3 separate regions of the Homo sapiens genome follow, and all the other regions are linked to region 3. The links come from fine-mapping of genetic effects on gene expression. A gene starts in region 3. Each other region holds a variant in brackets. All regions are shown on one strand. Distances are between the middles of the regions.

Region 1 (6,145 bases), 840 kb before region 3:
GCTTCACAGCACTTAATACATTTTGTTATAATTATTTATTTTCACATCATTCTCGCCTTCTGGTTTGTGAGTTTCTTGACAGAATACTTATGTCACTCACCTCTATATACTGCACATCGTGACAATTTCTGAACTTTACTACGTATTACATGGTTTTTAGATGGACACGTAATTGATCACAATTGAGAGGAGGTCTATAGGCTATGATCTGTACACCAAATCCTGCCCACTGCCTGTTTTTGTAAATAAAGTTTTATTGAAACACTGTGCACCCATTCATTCACATACTGTTTATGGCTGCTTTCTTATTATAACAAGGGAACTGATTAGTTGCAACAAAGATTATATGACTTGCAAAACCTAAAATGTTTATTGTCTGTTCTTTTTCAGAAAAGTTTGCTGACGCCTGATATGGAGCACTAGAAAGAAATTATTTTTCCAAGCATCAACCCGGAAGTCCCAGCATACCGAGGTTAACCAAAACACTTATATTCTGTTCTCTCACAATTCTCTGAAACTACTTCTCTTCTAAAATGTATGACACTATATGGTAACCTATATTTCCCACTAGAATCTGGGAATATGTAAGCTTTATAGGGGTTGTGCATGATATAAGTATTTTTACCTACTTTTTACCTGCTTACCTCTTAGGAGAATTTTGAAAAACCCAGCACATCTTAAAATTGAGATCTAAAATTTTTCACTGGAGATTCAGGCCACTGCACAATACATAACTTTGTGCAAATATAAATATAGACTATTTAAAATAAAACTGTTCCACCCAAGATAATTTACACAACAAAGTGTTTGATATCCACTATTATCCATCTAAAGAAGCTTTGGCTTACGCTTAAGATGAAGAAGGCCACAAGAGAAAACCCCTTCCACTCTAACAATGAGAACAAACCAGAGAGTCTGCAAAATCATGATGTTTGCAGCCCATTAGTGAGCTGAGGTTGCAAGGCCACCTGGTGAGCTAAGACCCAAGGTTGACAGGTCATTCTGAGGACAGCAGGACAGAAACAAGCTGTTGGACATTTATCGCAGCAGTGAGAAGAGATGGCTGCCATAGAATTCTTACTAGTGAGTGTTAGCGTGGTATGCTTCCATAGGAGAAGGCTGCACTCTCCTGCCAACTCTTTCCTTACACCTCTACCTGATGCTTACATGGAAGATCTGGACAGGAACCAGGGATCAAAGGGGCACAAAAAACCTTTTTCCGATGAAGGAATTTTTCTATAGCTTATATTGGTGGTTAAACAATTGATATAATTATCAAAATTCGTCAAAATGAACCACCTAAAAGTGGAATTTATTATATATAAATTATACCTCAAAAAAGCTTAAATATAGGCCAGGTGCAGTGGCTCATGCCTGTAAGCCCAGCACTTCAGGAGGCTGAGGCGGGCAGATCACGAGGTCAGGAGTTTGACACCAGCTTGGCCAATGTGGTGAAACCCGTCTCTACTAAAAATACAAAACATAATTGGGTATGGTGGTGCTTGCCTGTAATCCCAGCTACTGGGGAAGCTGAGGCGGGAGAATAGCTTGAACCCAGAAGGCACAGGTTGTAGTGAGCCAAGATCGCGCCACTGCACTCTAACCTGGGTGACAGAGTGAGACTCCATCTCAAAAAAAAAAAAAAAAAAGCTGAAATAATTTGGAGCAAAAGGAGTGGTAGAATTGTATGAACAATATAATATTCTTTATGTAATTTTTAAAACATGAAAAAATACTACATATTATTTATGGATTACAGTATGCACAGAAATGATAAACACAAAATTTAGGATAGGGATTACTTTGGGGGAGAGAGGGGAAGAATAAGGTAAGAGTATACAGTGAGTGTTAACTGAATATACTGTGCATCATTTCTTTTTCAAAACAAGAAGTAAATATCAATAAGCAAAAGGTTAAGATTGTATATAGTTGGGTGATGACCATATAGAGGTTTGTAATGTTACTTTTCATAATTAATGAAAGTAATTTGAAGTTAAACTTACATAGTACAAAAATTCTAAACAATAAATAACATAATTGAAATTAAGACAAACAAGGGGCAAGAGCTAGATAGAGCTGTGGAGGGGAACAGGCAGAACAGCATGGTCGACCTGTGGATTTTGTAATGTTTTTGCAGCACAAATAAAATTCTTCCCAAAACAGTTATAATTCTCATTCCCTTCCATGCTACTGTACTTTGCCCTTCTTTTTTTAGGGAAAGACAGATTTCTACCCATCAGTGATGCTTTTCCTTTGAGAATCAGAAGGGACAAGTGGCCAGGCCTGCCAGCTTGATTCTATCTTTAAGGACAGGTGCCTGCTAACATTCGACAATTTTAAAAAAGTATAACATCTAATAAAGCAGTCAAAGAATAAAATGACTGTATTTGGACAGTAGTTCCTCTGGTCCCCAGCATTTGTACTTCTCGCCACGATATGGGTAGTTTACATAGTTGCTCAGCAGCCTGCCTCCTGCAGTTTGTGTTTCAAGACATACAATTTATCTCCTGGACACCCTCACTTCCCACCACTTTTGGTCACTTCTATTCCCTTTGGAGTGCGTAGATTGATGCTGAGGAAGATATCAGCCAGCATACAGAGATAACTACTGGTACTTCCTCTTCCTTCTCCTCCTTGCTTCCTCCTCCTCTTTTCATTCTCTTCTTCCTTCCCATGTTCTTTTTCCTTTTTTTCTAACAAGGACGGCAATTACAATCTTGGCCATGCCTGACATCCATGATCTTTTCCTATTTTTATTACATCTCTCCTGACAATATTACTGCTAAAAACTCAGAAATATGAGAATTTTCATTTTTAAGATTTCTGTAACTAGACTTAAATCCATCTCTGGGACCACATCTCACTTTTGTAGGTAGAAATTCTATCTCAGTCCTCATTAGGGTGTTTCCTCATCCCATGGGC[A/G]TGCACCACAGTACTGGGATGTTCACTTGGCCGTTGTTCATTAGTCCACACTTGTTGAGTCTTCTGTTGTTCCAGAATGAATGGCCCCTTCCACATCACAGGCTCTGTTGTCATAGTTTTTGAAGCATGGGCACTTGGACGCCTAGTTTCTATATCCCCAGGGGTACCAGGTAGTCATCTCAAAGTCTTATCACCTTCCCTAGATACTGCCTCTGATAGCAATTAGTTCTTTCACCTTCCACTATGTCTTAGTCCATTTTTGCATTGCAATAAAGGAATATATGAGGCTGGGTAATTTATAAAGAAAAAGGGTTATTTGGCTCCTCATTCTTCTGGCTGGAAGATTGGGCATCTGGTGAAGGCCTCTGGCTGCTTCCACTCATGGCAGAAGGTGAAGGGAAGCCAGCATGTGCAGAGATCACATGGCCAGAAAGGAGGAAATAGGTGGGCTGGGGGGTGGGGTGCTAGGCTCTTTTTAACAACCAGCTCTTGTGGGACCCAATAGAGCAAAAACTGACTCATTCCATGAGAACAGCACGAAGCCATTTGTGAAAGGTCTGTCCCACCTCTCACTAGGCCCCACTTCTAGTATTGAGGATTAAATTTCAACATGAAATTTGGAGGGACAGACAAGCAAACTGTAGCATATTACACTGAGATTTGCTTTAAATTGGGATTCATTTCTTCCTTTCCCTCTTTTTTTGTCAAGTGTTGCCATTCTCTCATTCAGTTCCCCTCAGCCATTCTCCCTCTCTTCTCTCCCCATCCCCCATCAGGGTGGCAGACATCATTTCTTCAATGAACTTAGTATTTAGAAAGATATCTTCACTCCAAGCATCAAGTCTTTTCTGTCCTGCAAAAGTCTTAAGGTAAGAAAATATATACTGGCCTGGCCACATGTTCAAAATGAGGAAATACTTAAAAAATATGAAGACCAAATAAGAGTTAATTGATACTCCTGTGCATTATCCTGGAACGCAATCTATAGAAATGATTCCTGATGATAGCAACTGTTCATTTTCTAATAACTCACCTCTGGCTTGAAAATACATGTGTGAAATTCTTTAGCCTGATTTAGACAATTACTTTTAGAATCAAACTGTCTTACATTAAACTTCTCAGCTTTCTCACATTCTAGCTGACATCTTGGTTCCCTGAGGTGGGCACTGTAATGGGCCTCCCAGATCCCTCTTCAATGGCCAGATCCCTCTTTTGCCCCAACTTGAAAGTGCTCTTTGCAGACAACCTTTGGCTCCTCTGCTGCTTCAGGCATTGCCTCAGCTGCAAATAAGCTCCTTACCCCAAGTCATGCCTTTTTTCAGTATAGTCTGCCTTTAATTACTGACTGATGCTGGGTAGTAAAGGCATGGCCATACTTCCCCAACCTGAGACCACTCTGTTGGACCCTTACAGCTTTAGAACTCCCTGTGGTTGGTTGAGGCTTTCTTTGAGGCTGCATCACAGCTCAACTTCTTCCCCTCCCTCCCTCTGCCTACTACTGCTTCTCTTCTCTCCTTTCAACTAGTTTTGATCCAAAGGGCACTCCTTAATAAATTCCCTGTGTACTGTGATCCATTTCACCTGCTCCCCAGCTTGCAACACTTCCTAAAATCAACTCCCTCATTTGTAACACAGCACTATTGTAAAGATTAAATAAAATAGTATATGCCTTACTATAGTGCTTGGCACATACACACACCAACAAATGGTGGAAACTATTATTTCTATAGTTGCTCAAAAATAACTTTGCTAAAATACATTCTCAACTTTTCATCTTTCTAATCTAGTCAAACCAGAATCCACTAGTAGAGGGCACCTTTGGATTCAACAGTAAAAGGAGAATCTACAAAACCAGCTCATCAAAAGGGTAAGTTTCTCTTTCCATGCTATGGCTGCTAGATTTGTTTGCCAACAATATGTTGCAACATTTCTGCAGGCAATAGCTTAAATAATGTTTTTCTAAATGGAAGTAGGGAATTCTGGTTGTGACACAACACCTGCAAAGATATTTTCACTTTGGTGCCAAGATATCTTTAGAAAAAATACTATGCATTCCTTATTTTCATCAAAATGAGACTATCTATAGATACTTACAAAGTAATGAGTGGCCAGGAGTGGTAATGCCAATATCTGATTATAGTATTTGTTTAGCTATCCTCTCTAAAAGATCCTTGTCCCATTATAATGCCCCAAATTTGACTCTTTACAATTAACTCCTTTCCTTCTTTATGACAAGGTGAGAATACAAGAATAGCTTATTGTTTTCCATATTAATGTGCATGGCAACTCACTTGGGAACTTATTATAAATGTAAGTTCCAGCATGCTACTCTCAGAGTTTCTGATTCAGTGGATCTGAGTTGGAGCTCAGGAATGTGCATTTTTCAATAAGCACCCAGAAAATTTTCATGCTTATTGTGAGAAACACTTGCATAGAAAATGGCTGGATTAGTCCCTACTCAGTCCAGGGAATAAAGAAGAAGGAGTAAGATTAAAAATAAATTTTTAAACATTGCCACACCCAGGATTTCAACTATCATCTTGTGGAACCCACATGAGACACTTTTGAAAGAGCTAAAACAAACACCACTCCTACAGGCCAAGCTTGTCATATGACACTTATTATTAGGTGATCATTTATCATGTGGAGCAAGGCTTGATCTAGGGTTAAACACTTGCATTTTTTTTTTCTTTCCTCACTGACAGCTCTTTCCCAGCCTGTGTTGAAGTGTCACAGGGCTCAGACCTTCGTCTTCTCATTTCCTAGGTTGTCCATGCTCATGACTGTAAATGTCATCTATTAAATATAAATTCCTAAACTTACATTTACAGTTTTGGTCCCTTGAGCTTCAGTTCAGAAATTTGTCTACTGGGCATCTCCACTTGAATACAGAATAGACATTTCAAACTTAACTTGTCCACAGTTGAGATCTTAACTTATAATCTCCCCAACTATTCATCCCCATGATTTATGTATCTAAGCAAAATGATAACTGAATTCATCTATTATCTCAGGATTTGAAGTCCTTTTTGGCTTATCTTTTTATATCTCTCATGGTCTACATTAAATGGGTAAGCAAATCTGTTGGCTCTACTTTCAAAATAAATCTGATATCCAAGACAGTATTTCAGTTGGATATTTTATCCTCAATGTTCCTGTCTCACCACTTTCATTCCTGCTACATTGAAAAAGCCATCACCATCTACTGCCTGAATTCCTTGCT
Region 2 (6,145 bases), 36 kb after region 3:
TCTATTGTTGTTTTCTATTTTCTAAAAGGATCACAGGCAGAACAATATTTTTTAAGAAGGTAAGTGATCCTTGTATACTTTTGTATAGTCTCAGAATGTCTCTCCTGGCCAAAAATTGTCGTTCTTTGTTCAGAGAAATTGCATTTTAGTGAAACAGTTACCTAGAAGATTCTCTGATGGTGTGATTTATTGTGTGGCAGCAGCCACCTAGTCCAGTTGAAAGAGCACTGGTATAAAGTCAAATCGTTTATAAGTAGAATCCCAATCCCTCTGTTTGCTGCCTGTGTGACTCTGAATAACTGAGTCCTCATTATTTTACCTATCAAATATAACTAATACTCTCTTCTTATAAAATTGTATTAAAAATCAAATAAATAGAACCATATATAAAGCCAGCACATGCCTAGCTTAAAGCAGATTCTTAATATATATTTGCATTTTCACCTTCTTTGTAACATTTGCTTTATTATACTCTCAAAAGTCAGCAATCTAGACATCAATATGCATATTATAATCATCCACATCAGTGTAATGAGTTAGATTTTACAAATTGTTTGCATTTATGTCATTGGAAACTCAGGCTCTGGGAAATGATCTTTTGCAAAGCTACTAAGACACAGAGCTGAGACAATGGGCCCAGTTCTCCCTGTGAAATTGTTTTGTGGATTGGTATCATCAGCTCCCTGAAGCACCTTCATTAAAATAGATTTGGAAAGTAGCTAGTTTGGGAGCCATGTCTTTGGTTTTGAAAGCTGCAAGCTGGAAGAGCATGTGCGGGTTGATACAGGATCTGAAGATGGAACAATCACATGCCCAATATTATTCCCAAGGAAAGAGCCAGCCTGCTGGGCTGGATAAAGAAAATCCACTATAAAGTGTGTTTATCCTAAGAACCGGGACTGCCCGGCTTCCCTATAAGTGCCAAGTGGAACACCACTAATAAAGCAGCTGACATTCTTTATATGCAAGTTGTGAAACTGGCTTTAAAAGTTTATAAAGAAAATAAAAAAGAGAAAGAAATGGAAAAGAAAATTCTAACAGAAATTCTTAAGACACGATTGCAAGAGGAAGTCGTTTTTGCTTTCCTGTGCTAGCAGTTTCTTTCTCAGAGTGGTTCTTCCACCTAGTTCTGGTGACTCACATCCTTGGCTGCAGGCACTTTGCTTATCTTGAGTGCTATAAAGCAGCGGTTCCCAACCGTTTTGGCACCAGGGACCAGTTTCATGGAAGACAATCTTTCCACAGACAAGGGGTAGGGAGATAGTTTAGGGGTGATTCAAGCACATTACACTTATTGTGCACTTTATTTCTATTATTACTACATTGTAATATATAATGAGATAATACTTATAAAACTCACCATAATGTAGAGTCAGTAGATGCCCTGAGCTTGTTTTCCTGCAACTAGATGGTCCCATCTGCAGATGATGGGAGACAGTAACAGATCATCAGATATTAGATTCTCATAAGGAGCATGCAACCGAGATCCCTCCCATGCACAGTTCACAGGAGGATTTGTGCTCCTATGAGAATCTAATGCCACAGCTGATCTGACAAAAGGTGGAGCTCAGATGGTAGTGCAAGCAATGGGGAGCAGCTGTAAACACAAATGAACCTTTTCTTGCTCACCCGCCACTCACCTCCTGCTGTGCATCCTGGTTCCTAATAGGTCACACACTGGTCCAGGCCCGGGGACTGGGGACCTGTGCTGTAAAGCATCATGAAATGTGAGCCCTCATGGGATCAATCAAATTAAATAGCTAGCAAACATCTATACTGAGCACCTACTATATGCCACATAGTAGGTACTCAACATAGATGTTTTAATCAGATATTCTACTTAACTCAAATAGGATCCTGATTGTGACTTCTCAAAAGTCTGTAATCTAGACATCTTTATGCATATTATAATCATCACATCAGTGTAATGAGTTAGAGTGTACAAGTTTTCTGCATTTATGTCGTTGGAAACTAAGGTTCTGGACTTACTGTGGCCTTTAGTCTGATTTGCTACTAAGAATATCTGACCAGGAGTATCTATCTCATGTTGTCTCTCCATCTGGATATAAGCTACCCTAGGGCAAGGACTAGGTCTTGTCTGTGGAGGACAGACTACTTAGCATGGCATATGTGGAACACATGGATAACTTTTCTTTGATGGATTACTTTTGTCTAAATTATCAAGTCACTGTTATAGACACAGTTGCTGCCTAGAAGAATTCAGACAATTTGGTTTATATATATAGTGGCATTAGTAATATTTTATTTAAAACCTTCAGAATGCCAGCGTTCTACGCTGTAATCCAGTCAGTAGAATGTTGTGGGTTTTTTTTGTTTGTTGTTTTTTTTTTTGAAAAAAGCTTGAAATCAAAGGCAAAAAAGGTCTGAGGGGTTATTTTACCAGGGTTAAGGCAAGGCCTTTCTACAGAGAAGCTGCCTTCCAGTGGCCACATTGCTGGAGTCTCTTCAGTGCTCCCCTCAACTCCTTTATTTTCTATTTCATGAGGTAATTAATTTTTTACAAAAAATATTTACAGAAAACTCTGATTTACTATAACTCCTTAGCAAAATATATATATATATATATAATCTAAAATAGTATAAAACAAATTTTCCCAACTGGTTTTGGATAACTTTCTTCTTTGGCTTTCTCTCTGGTTTCCTCCAGTTGCTTGTTGCATGCCTTCTAAACAGCCTACCCTGCCAAGTGCCATGATTACTGTGACCACATCTTCAGAACCAGAAAACAGGATACCTGGCCCTAAGCATGCACTCATGGAGCAGAAGAGTTTTAAATCTGGAATGCCACAGAAGACAGAAGATAACATGCTTACTACACTTGTAAAGCAACATGCAGCCAGCCATTTCCAGTGCAAATTATCTCATTGCATAGTGTGACAACTAAAGGTCATAACCATAAT[A/G]CAAATCGTGTTTTTCTTGTAATCTATCCTTGGGTTAAATGTGAACTCCAGGAGAGCAAAGACTTTGTGGGTATCCCCAGCACTGACATCTGTGACCAGCATATGATAAACTGTAGTTGTACATAGGAGAGAATCAATAACTATTTGTAGAACTGAATATATTTTATTGCAACCCTTTTCATAATGTTAAGATAATAGACATCATAGTGTAACTAACAGTGCCTTAGAAGTGGATATCAGAGACTTGGCTACCACCAACAAGCAACTGTGAATGAGTAACTTCTCTGAATATCTCTTTGTTCATCAGGAAATTGAGAGAGATGGGGCAGATTTATTTTTTAGGTCCCTTCCACCTGTGAAGTGCTATTTCTCTCCACCTTCACTTATGATCATTCATTCACCAGGGCATGCAGACATTAGTCATTGCTCAGAACTCAGTGTTTCCAGTAGACATGGATTGGGAGCAATAAAAGTGGACCCAGAGCTAATTACTGGGAATTCCTACTTGAATACAGAATGCTATAGCAGTTCAACACATGGAAAAGGATGTCTAGCCCATGAGGAATAAATACTCGATCTTTAATGCTTCATTTCTAGAGCCACAGCTTGTGTTAAAAGAACCACCTTCACCAAGCAGTCCAATGAGAACAAACTCTAGGACAAACATTCTCTGCCAACAGAGCTAACTAGATGGAGAAAAAGAAAATGAATGAAATCTAGGGAAAAAAATGGAGCCACCCAGTTCAAGACAGTGCAGGTGGAGGAGCAGTATGTTTAGACCGCATCGCAGGTAGAATTCAGAGGGACTGTAAGCGATGCCTGGAAACGCTTGTTGACCAACAATGGGCTCCTATAGAACCAAGGGACTATCATTCTCCTATTGCAGAATAATTTTTCTAGATACTTTATTTTATTATAATGAAAGTTCCTTCTAGTATCTTAATGACCTTAGGGAATTGGTATTCATATCCTGTTAGTTGAGAGAAGAGAGTTTTTCCAGTGGGAACGTGAATAAATTTAAATGAGTCACCCCTCAAGTACCAAGCACCACTGTTCCCAGGTTTAAATGACAATTACTATTCCTTCAGTGAACCATGGCCACTCTGAGATTGGGTGTGGGGAGGAGAAAGGAATGGAATGCCAGTGAAACCATCTTCTATTGTCATCCTCCTCTGGGGCCTCACTCAGTTGTAGTCTTGCATCTGAGACCTTGGCCTCTTTGTGAAATAAACATTTCTTGGCCCTGTCTTGCAGGAAAATTGGAAGCCTGACCCTAAAATAAGCTAATATCATCCATAGACCAGACCAAAAGAAAAGCAGGGAGAATTTGGCACAAAGCAGCTCTCTTCAAGAAATTATTTTCCATGTCATATTTGCATAAATTAGTCATGGGCCCGCCAATTCAATGAAAGAGGAAAAGAGCACTCATGACCCTAGTGTGCTGGCATCCTGTTGTCCTTTATAGCTAAGGTCAGACTGTTTCTCCTTTTGCCTCATGTCGGCTCCTCTTAGTCGACTAAGACTGGCAAATCTGAGGCTACAGATTGTGCTATGAATGAGCAGCTGGAATTGCGCAACATTTTACTTGGCTAATATTTCAGTTTGTTGAGTCAGTGGCCTGACAAGTAGCTACAGCCCATGAAACAGCATTTTCTGACTCAGTGCATGTGCGAAAGAAGTAGTAGCTAAAGGTTCTGTTGGCACAGCCTTCTGACTCCACAGCATTGTTCTAGGATCTAGATTCCTCTCTACTTAACTCGGTTTCATTGCTTCCTATAAATTCTATGTAAATCTCAGACCCTCAGTAACATATCCCAAGACACATGATGAGCAACACTTGGTATTCAGTTTTCTCCAGCGCTGTGAAAGAGTCCCACCAGGAAACAATAAGGCCTTTTAGCCTATTAATTCATGAGCAATTTGATGCCTCTTAGGCGATAAGTGCAAGTTGAGAAATGAATTTCCTGCTGCTAAAATTCCAACGCTTTAGAAACTCTTCAGTGAACAAATAAAAGTTTATTCTTTGCAATAATGATGGAAACAAAGACTTTCATAAAACCAAACAATTGAAATGTCTTGATAAATGCCTGCAGAGTTGGCTAGGTTTCTAAACTATCAAATAATGAGTTTACCTCTTCTTACACTTTTTCAAGAATCCATTGAAGAATCAAGATAGGAAAGAGTATGATTCTTCATTTTTCCTAGCCATGCTCCACTGCTCTATGTTATCATAAAAGGACTTTAATTAAAGTGTTATTCCATTAATTGCCCAAGAAGTCATATTTGAAAGAAATAAATGCTTATATATGTATGCTTACATGTCCCTTCTGGAAGTCTTAACCTTTAAAACTACTCCAGCCCCTTCCCCAAACGTCCTTCCCCAATTCCTTATGCACTTACTGGATTCAAAGCACGACACTATAAAAGCTGTGAGAAGAAAAAAATATAAATTTAAAGAAAACTTTTTTTCAGAAAGATAATTAAATTCAATGTAACAATAATAACTACTCGTTTTCAAAACTCAGCTCTTCAACTATTTCTCCTAGAATTTTTTTCCAAAACTCTTACTTCAAGTCTAACACTCCTTCATCTCAGTTTTCTCTTTCATGATTATGTATTTTAACTCATAGGTATACTCTTTAAGACAGGGGCTATCCCTGAGACCTATCCCACATCCTGAGAAGGGCTTGGCACTCTCCTTGTCAGATAGCCTGTTGCCTCCTCAGCCACACTGTGAGCTCCTTGATAGAAAGAATTGTGCTATCTGTGGCTTTCAGAGCCCTATTCAGATACTTGATGCTTAACATGTGCTTGTAGAGTCGGTAAACTGAATGTATGTGGAGCCTCCAGAACTGTGTTCCCATTGAGGATGACAGGGAACAGATCAATCCTTGTCCTACATGGCCTAAATCTTAGTTTGACAAATATCTGGAAAGAATTACAAAAATATAAGGTAGGAATGACTTGGGAGTCCAGGGTGGTGTCTGAACCCTAGTCACTGCCTTGGGCACACATTTCTCATACTGTTGCAATATCACAGTTGTTGACTTTCAGTTCACTCAGTTGGTCAACTCCCTAAAGTTGGTTAAGGACCCTCATACCCCTCATCCTACTCTTTTCTTCTACCCCAAACCCCCTTTGCTCAGGACTTCCAGTGGTTCCCTCCTTTTAACCTCAGTATTAGCCCTTTATCCCCAACTCTTTGCCTGCCAAATGACATAGGA
Region 3 (6,113 bases):
GACACAGGAAGGGGAACATCACACTCTGGGGACTGTTGTGGGCTGGGGGGAGGGGGGAGGGATAGCATTAGGAGATATACCTAATGCTAAATGACAAGTTAATGGGTGCAGCACACCAGCATGGCACATGTATACATATGTAACTAACCTGCACATTGTGCACATGTACCCTAAAACTTAAAATATAATAATAATAAAATAAAAGAAAAAAAAAAAGAAGTGAACTTAAAATACCCAGCAACAATAGCCTATGAGCTAGAAGGTGGTTAAACGTAAAAGTTCCAAAATCCTTGTTTTTTGAGTAGGAATATAAAGGTAAATGTTGATACATTGGATTTGTTGAAACATCGATTGTTATTTTTCATCATTTCCGAAAGATTTTTGCCATTGTCACTTCAAATGTTGTCTCTGACCCTTTCCTCTCTCTTCTGCTTGTGACAATCCAATTAGACATCTATTAGAGCTTACACCTGTATCCTCTACGCCTTTCGACTTCTTTCTCCAAATTTCTACCTCTTTATCTCTCTTATAAGAATTCCAGAAGTTCTTTGGTTCTATTTTCTAGTTTTCTAATTTTATTTTCAACTGTGTCTAATTTGTTATAAAATTTATCCACTGAAATTTGTTAATTAAATAATTATGTTTTTACTTCTCAGAGTATTGTTTGATTTGTTTGCAAATATGCTTAGGCTTTAACCATATTTTAAACTTCTTTGCCTCACATTTATCAGTTTTACTCCTCAGTTACTGATAAGCAACTTATAATATGTACTCTCTTTCCTCTTTAAATGTCCAGCTATGCTAAAGCGCACAGACATACAAACCGGTTAATCGAAATCTGAAGACAGACTTATTAGCAAGATAGTATACAGTGGGGAGTTGAAAACATTTCCAACATTCTGTGGAGGACACTACTGTTTGTAACCTATTTCTGGAAAGGAGTTCTGTTTTCTAAAAATAAAAGTTTGTAATTTTCCATAAACAAAATGCTAAGGGGAAGCATTTATGTTTTCTAAATCAAAGTATAATTTTAAATATAAACAAAGAGAATCCCAATAAGCTAAAACTAAAAAAAAGACAAACACTTGATTACTTTGACAACAAATTATATTTTAAATGTTTCATATTTACTTTTATATTTCCATACAATCAGAAACAGTAAAAAAAATTTGGAGAGCACATAAAAACATCTTAAAGTTAAAAATATAAAGCCTTGTATTTAAAAATGCAGTCATTTAAATAATATTATAAGAATCTATTTGTACATAATAAACAAGTTTCAACCAGCAAGAAATTACTAATATTGACTGTGGAGTTTTGGCTGTTTTAATAGTTCTAACTCATTATTCCGTAATTCAACACAGCACTACCAACACAGCTGGCAATGACAAGACTGGGAGTATCAAACTAGGATTGTTAGTTCAATTAAAATTTCAGATAAACAATAATGTACTTATACTAAAAAATTATTTGTTGTTTATCTGAAATGAAAATTTAACTGGGTACCCAATTGTTTGTTTGTTTAATCTAAAAACCCTGATTGAAATTTATCTAATAAAACATCATTTAATATCTAAAATAAAATAAATTTACTATAACATCTTTATAACTATTCAATCAATGATTCATCTTCTATTTTTCCAAATTCTTGCACAAATATTTGATGCTTAAATAAATACATAAATAATAAATAGGTTAATAAGTTACACTTGAAAATAATTTATGTTATGATGAAAAAACTTAAAGTGCTTCCACATGTCCTCACAACATCACTGTGAGGTAAGATGGTGGCTAATACTTTTTCCACTTAGAAATAAAGGAGAAACCAAGGCACAGTGGAACAAGGACTTGTGGATCCTGGCTAGCAGACTAGGGTTGCCAGATTTAACAGAAAAAAATCCAGGATTTCCAGCTAAATTTGACTTTATGGCAAAATTTATTGTCCCATCATTTTTATGTGATGCTTCAAATATCACATTCTAGCAAACCCATTCAATTCCTGAAATTAAAGTTCGGATATTCTCTTGGCCCTTGGCCTCAATTTTGCTATTTGTATATTCTCCCGTGCAATATCTAGGAAAATCCTTATATTTAAAAATTATTTGTTGTTTTTTGTAGATTCAAATAAATAATACTTTACATATAAGTATGTTCTGGATATTTCATGGTACAATGAAAAACTATTCATTGTTTACTGAAATTCAAATTTAACCAGGAATCTTGTATTGCATCTGGCAACCCTACAACAGACCCACACAATACATGAAGTGTTGAAGTAGATTTGCTTGAAGTTTCACTGGCATCTTCACTGATTCTTGGATACCACAGAGAATGAATTTTTTTATGAATTCTCAGCCCTAAAATAAAATTAAAAATATAAAGATGAGCTATGTTTAATAAGAAGGAAAGTAGGGTTCTTGAAAAGTCAATATAGTCTTTGACATTCATGTGTTAGAAATGCTCTATATTCTCAACTATAAATAGGGAGATCAAAGAAATTATCATCTAAAATAGGACACTACTGGGAGTGACAAAGAACTTTACTAAGAGTATAGGACACAAGCTTAAACCCAGAATTTCCTGGGCAAACTATGTATGGTCTTTCTGGTCATGAGTACAACAAACTCACTATTGATGCTATTCCTTTTTTTTTTAACCAAAAAGGCAGATACCTAATGACGATTTTTAGCAACAGAAAGAAATTTATAGGCTGACTTTGGATTATATGTCTCAGGATAAATGAAAAATTTAAATTAAAAAATATATAACTTACCTCTTCAAAAACTTCTCCACAACCCTCTGCACCCAGTTTTCCTTGGGGTCCAGACAGAGCTCTCTTCCATCAGAAAGCTTTACACTGAAATAAGAAAGAAATGGTTCAGATTAATATTTAGTTTTTGCATTCAAATCATGATTCCTTAAGTCAGGCATAAAGTCTAAGTCCAAAATAACATTTATAGTAGTTGTGGAAGCTACCATATTTAAATGTCATGTAGACAAATATTTTTATTTTGTTTTGTTTCATTTACTACTGTAATCCTAACACCTGGAACTTTCCTAAATATTTCCACCTTCCTTAATTTTAAGTTTGCTAAAACAAAATATCTAATCTTTTTTAAAGTACTTACATAATTTCTGTGTTGGCGCAGTGTGGTCCACTCTCAATCACTCTCAGTTCTTTGATAAATTTGGGGTGGAAAGGTTTGGAGTATGTCTTTATGCACTGACATCTAAGTTCTTTAGCACTCCTTGGCAAAACTGCACCTGTTGGGGGAAAAAGTGATTAAGGATTGATTTTATCAACAGGCACAGCTCTGCCAGCTACTTCCTTTCTAATTCCAATATGATTATTTGGAGACTATGGAAGGCATCATGTTTCTAGTGAACTCATTCCTGAATATTCTCCTAGCCCTTGACCTCAGTTAGTTCTTTGTTTTAAAAAACAGTCATAACTGACAACATTGAACGACTTCCTATATAAAGAGTTAGAGTTCTTTTTGTACAATATCAACATCTTCATGGTATTTTTATCTGGTCAATATTGCATAATCCTCTGTGATACCACAGTGTTATTTATAGTAGGCAAGCTAAGACTCTCCAGCATAGAAATTGCCTTCAGAAAGAATTAACAGAAATATATAAATAAGTTATACATGCCTGGTCTATAATCAGGGTATCTTTAAACCAGACAGGAATTAATGACAAATCTGAGGCTTGTCAATGAAATACTACAAGGAGTGGAATTGTCTGAGTTACCTTGCTCAACTCAATATTAATACATAATATAGGTAACCGTGGTTCTCAATAGGACATACTATAAATTACTTATTTACGTTAAATATATGCATGCTACATGGTATAAATTATAAAAGCAGAATATCTATATTGATCAAACTTTATACTTTCCTAAGTGTTATATATAGTTTTTTCTAAATCTTCAATTTAACATTAATTGACTGCTAAGATTATATTCTGTTTCTGAATAAAAAGGATGTTTGTTACCAAAGCATCAAGAATAGCTTTGCTATCTAAGGATCACATTTAGACATAGGAAAACGCTGTAGGTCAGAAAGATGTGCTTACCTTCACACAGAGCTGCAGAAATCAGGAAGGCTGCCAAGAGAGCCACGGCCAGCTTGGAAGTCATGTTTACACACAGTGAGATGGTTCCTTCCGGTGGTTTCTTCCTGGCTCTTGTCCTAGAAGCTTGTGTGCTCTGCTGTCTCTGAAAGTTTGTGCCTTATGGAGTGCTCCGGTGGCTTTTTATATCATCACCCTACTAGAGAACTTATGCACCCTCATCTTTTCATTATGTCAGAGGAAATTCCACGATTTGCAACTGATGGCCCATCCCCTCAGGGCAAACCTGAGTCATCACACTTCCTATTTGTTCCTTATCAAATACGGAGTATGACGAAAGTTTTCTTTGATCTTTAAAATAATTTAATTTTAATATACATTTAAAATACTGAAGCTCCACAATTTGGTGAATTATCAATTGTATGCTTTTTTATTTCTAGATAACTTTATCATAGTACCATGTGACAGATATAGTACTAGAGTGGCAGGTGTTAGAACAAGATCATGGATGATTTTCTTTTAATGGCATAATTATTTTTTTTCAGTTAATTACAGATGCTATCATGATGGTGAAGATAAGCCAGCCAATCATTTTATTGGGGAGGTAATTTAAAATAAATCTTTTTCTAAGCATTTTAGAGAGTTTCTAGGAACTGTTACTGCTCTTAGGGGGCATACTACAACTTTTCAAAAGATTTAGTTTTCTAATGCATGTTAACAGAGTGAAGGGGCACATGTGCTTCACATAGAAATCAGTTCCACAAACATTTATGGAGTAACTTTCTGAGTAATGTGGGGGATCTAGAAATAGATAAGACTAGGTACTTGTCCTTAAAGAGTTTGGTCTATCAGAAGAAGAAAGCAATGTAAGGACTGACTATATAGCAGAATAGACAAGTGGTACTAAGACATTAATTCCAGTGGAGGCATAAGAGCAGAATCTTCCAAAGGCAGTTGGAGCAAGGCATTGAGGAATAGGAGGGCTTCAATAGAGGAAGATGAAAGAGAACAGCACATTCCAGATAGGAACAGTATTCAAGGCCACTCAAGTTGTAAAGTTAAGGTATGTTTATGCTCCAGAAAGTGGTGCACTGGAGCTGCTTGGTTGGGGTGGGAGGGAGGTGTTATCTAATGGAAAGTTGTATGCTTAGTGGAAAGAGCATCTGGGTTCCAACTCTGGTTCAGCCACTGTTGCTTCATGCTCTTTATCCAAGGACACCAAGTCTGACCTCTGAGGACCCATGATCACTAGCAAAAGGGATGGAGTGAGAAATTTCAACAAATCATAAAAAGGTGGCTTTATGTCCTAGTGTCCTGAAGAAAAGAATCCAAGACCTTTCTTGAAAGGTCTTGGATTCTGTAGATAAAGAGCACCAAGGAAGGGTTCTTATGATAGTAAAAGTCTGTTCGCTTCTGGGCAAGTACATAATTTATAAATAATTCACCTTGGTGTAACAGTTCTTCATTTTCAGAAAGTACGACAGAGCAGTGAATTTGCCCACACTGTGAACACACTGTGGAGGGGGAATGCCATTTTCAAATGCTTTCCAAAAAGGTTTGTCTGTTTCTGCACAATCATGTTTCTTTTTGTTATCTTTCTCCAACCAACCTAAGACTTGAGGATAAAATAATGCCTGGGTTACACTGAATTCTATAGCAAAGTAAATGTTTATTCTATATAATGTAGCTCCTATAGTTTTCAACTGTAGTATTTCAGAAACTTCATTATTCATTTAATATGTGTTGTTTATCTGCTAATGTCCCTTATTGTAGGAGATGTGAATGCTATGTAAATAGATATAGTACCTGACTTAAAGGACTTTGTTGTCTAGTGCAGAATATGGAAAATTAGTTACACAAGTAAGTAAAATACAGTGATGAGTGTTACAATAACAGGTAATTACAGGAAGTTCTGGAATCAAACAAACATGATCTTTGAGGCAGTTTTGATGAATGAAGGTTTTCTGAAGAAACAACATCAAAAGTGTTACCTTTATTGTTAATGAGGAGAAGAAAGACCAATGGGACTGCTT

Direction of the effects. Positions count from the first base shown, and alleles are read on the strand shown. Sizes are in standard deviations (SD) of each study's normalised expression. Not every link is listed here.
For the expression in spleen of the gene that starts at base 4,237 in region 3, allele A in region 1 goes with a higher level than allele G (large effect, 1.1 SD a copy in GTEx).

Evidence for each region. PIP is the estimated chance that this variant, and not a neighbour inherited with it, causes the effect.
Region 1: its variant is the best candidate, but not a certain one, in a credible set for the expression of CXCL8 in spleen (GTEx, PIP 0.90).
Region 2: its variant is the best candidate, but not a certain one, in a credible set for the expression of CXCL8 in whole blood (INTERVAL, PIP 0.62).

Annotation. Positions count from the first base shown.
Region 1 is chr4:74,582,659-74,588,803 of GRCh38, reverse strand. LOC107986229 (a long non-coding RNA gene) reads left to right here and starts at 3,699. Exons shown (of 3, transcript XR_001741513.2): 1 at 3,699-3,791; 2 at 4,710-4,789. The variant A/G (reference allele first, on the strand shown) is at 2,923.
Region 2 is chr4:73,703,099-73,709,243 of GRCh38, reverse strand. INKILN (inflammatory MKL1 (MRTFA) interacting lncRNA) reads left to right here. Exons shown (of 3, transcript NR_185098.1): 2 at 2,669-2,907. Among named protein-coding and RNA genes, the nearest start is that of UMLILO, 4.2 kb to the left of the region's middle. RefSeq lists an enhancer at 958-1,252. The variant A/G (reference allele first, on the strand shown) is at 2,922.
Region 3 is chr4:73,738,693-73,744,805 of GRCh38, reverse strand. It overlaps CXCL8 (C-X-C motif chemokine ligand 8), which reads right to left and starts at 4,237. Exons shown (of 4, transcript NM_000584.4): 1 at 4,084-4,237; 2 at 3,129-3,264; 3 at 2,774-2,857; 4 at 1,090-2,357. The coding sequence starts at 4,147. The coding sequence ends at 2,342. RefSeq lists a silencer at 5,480-5,774.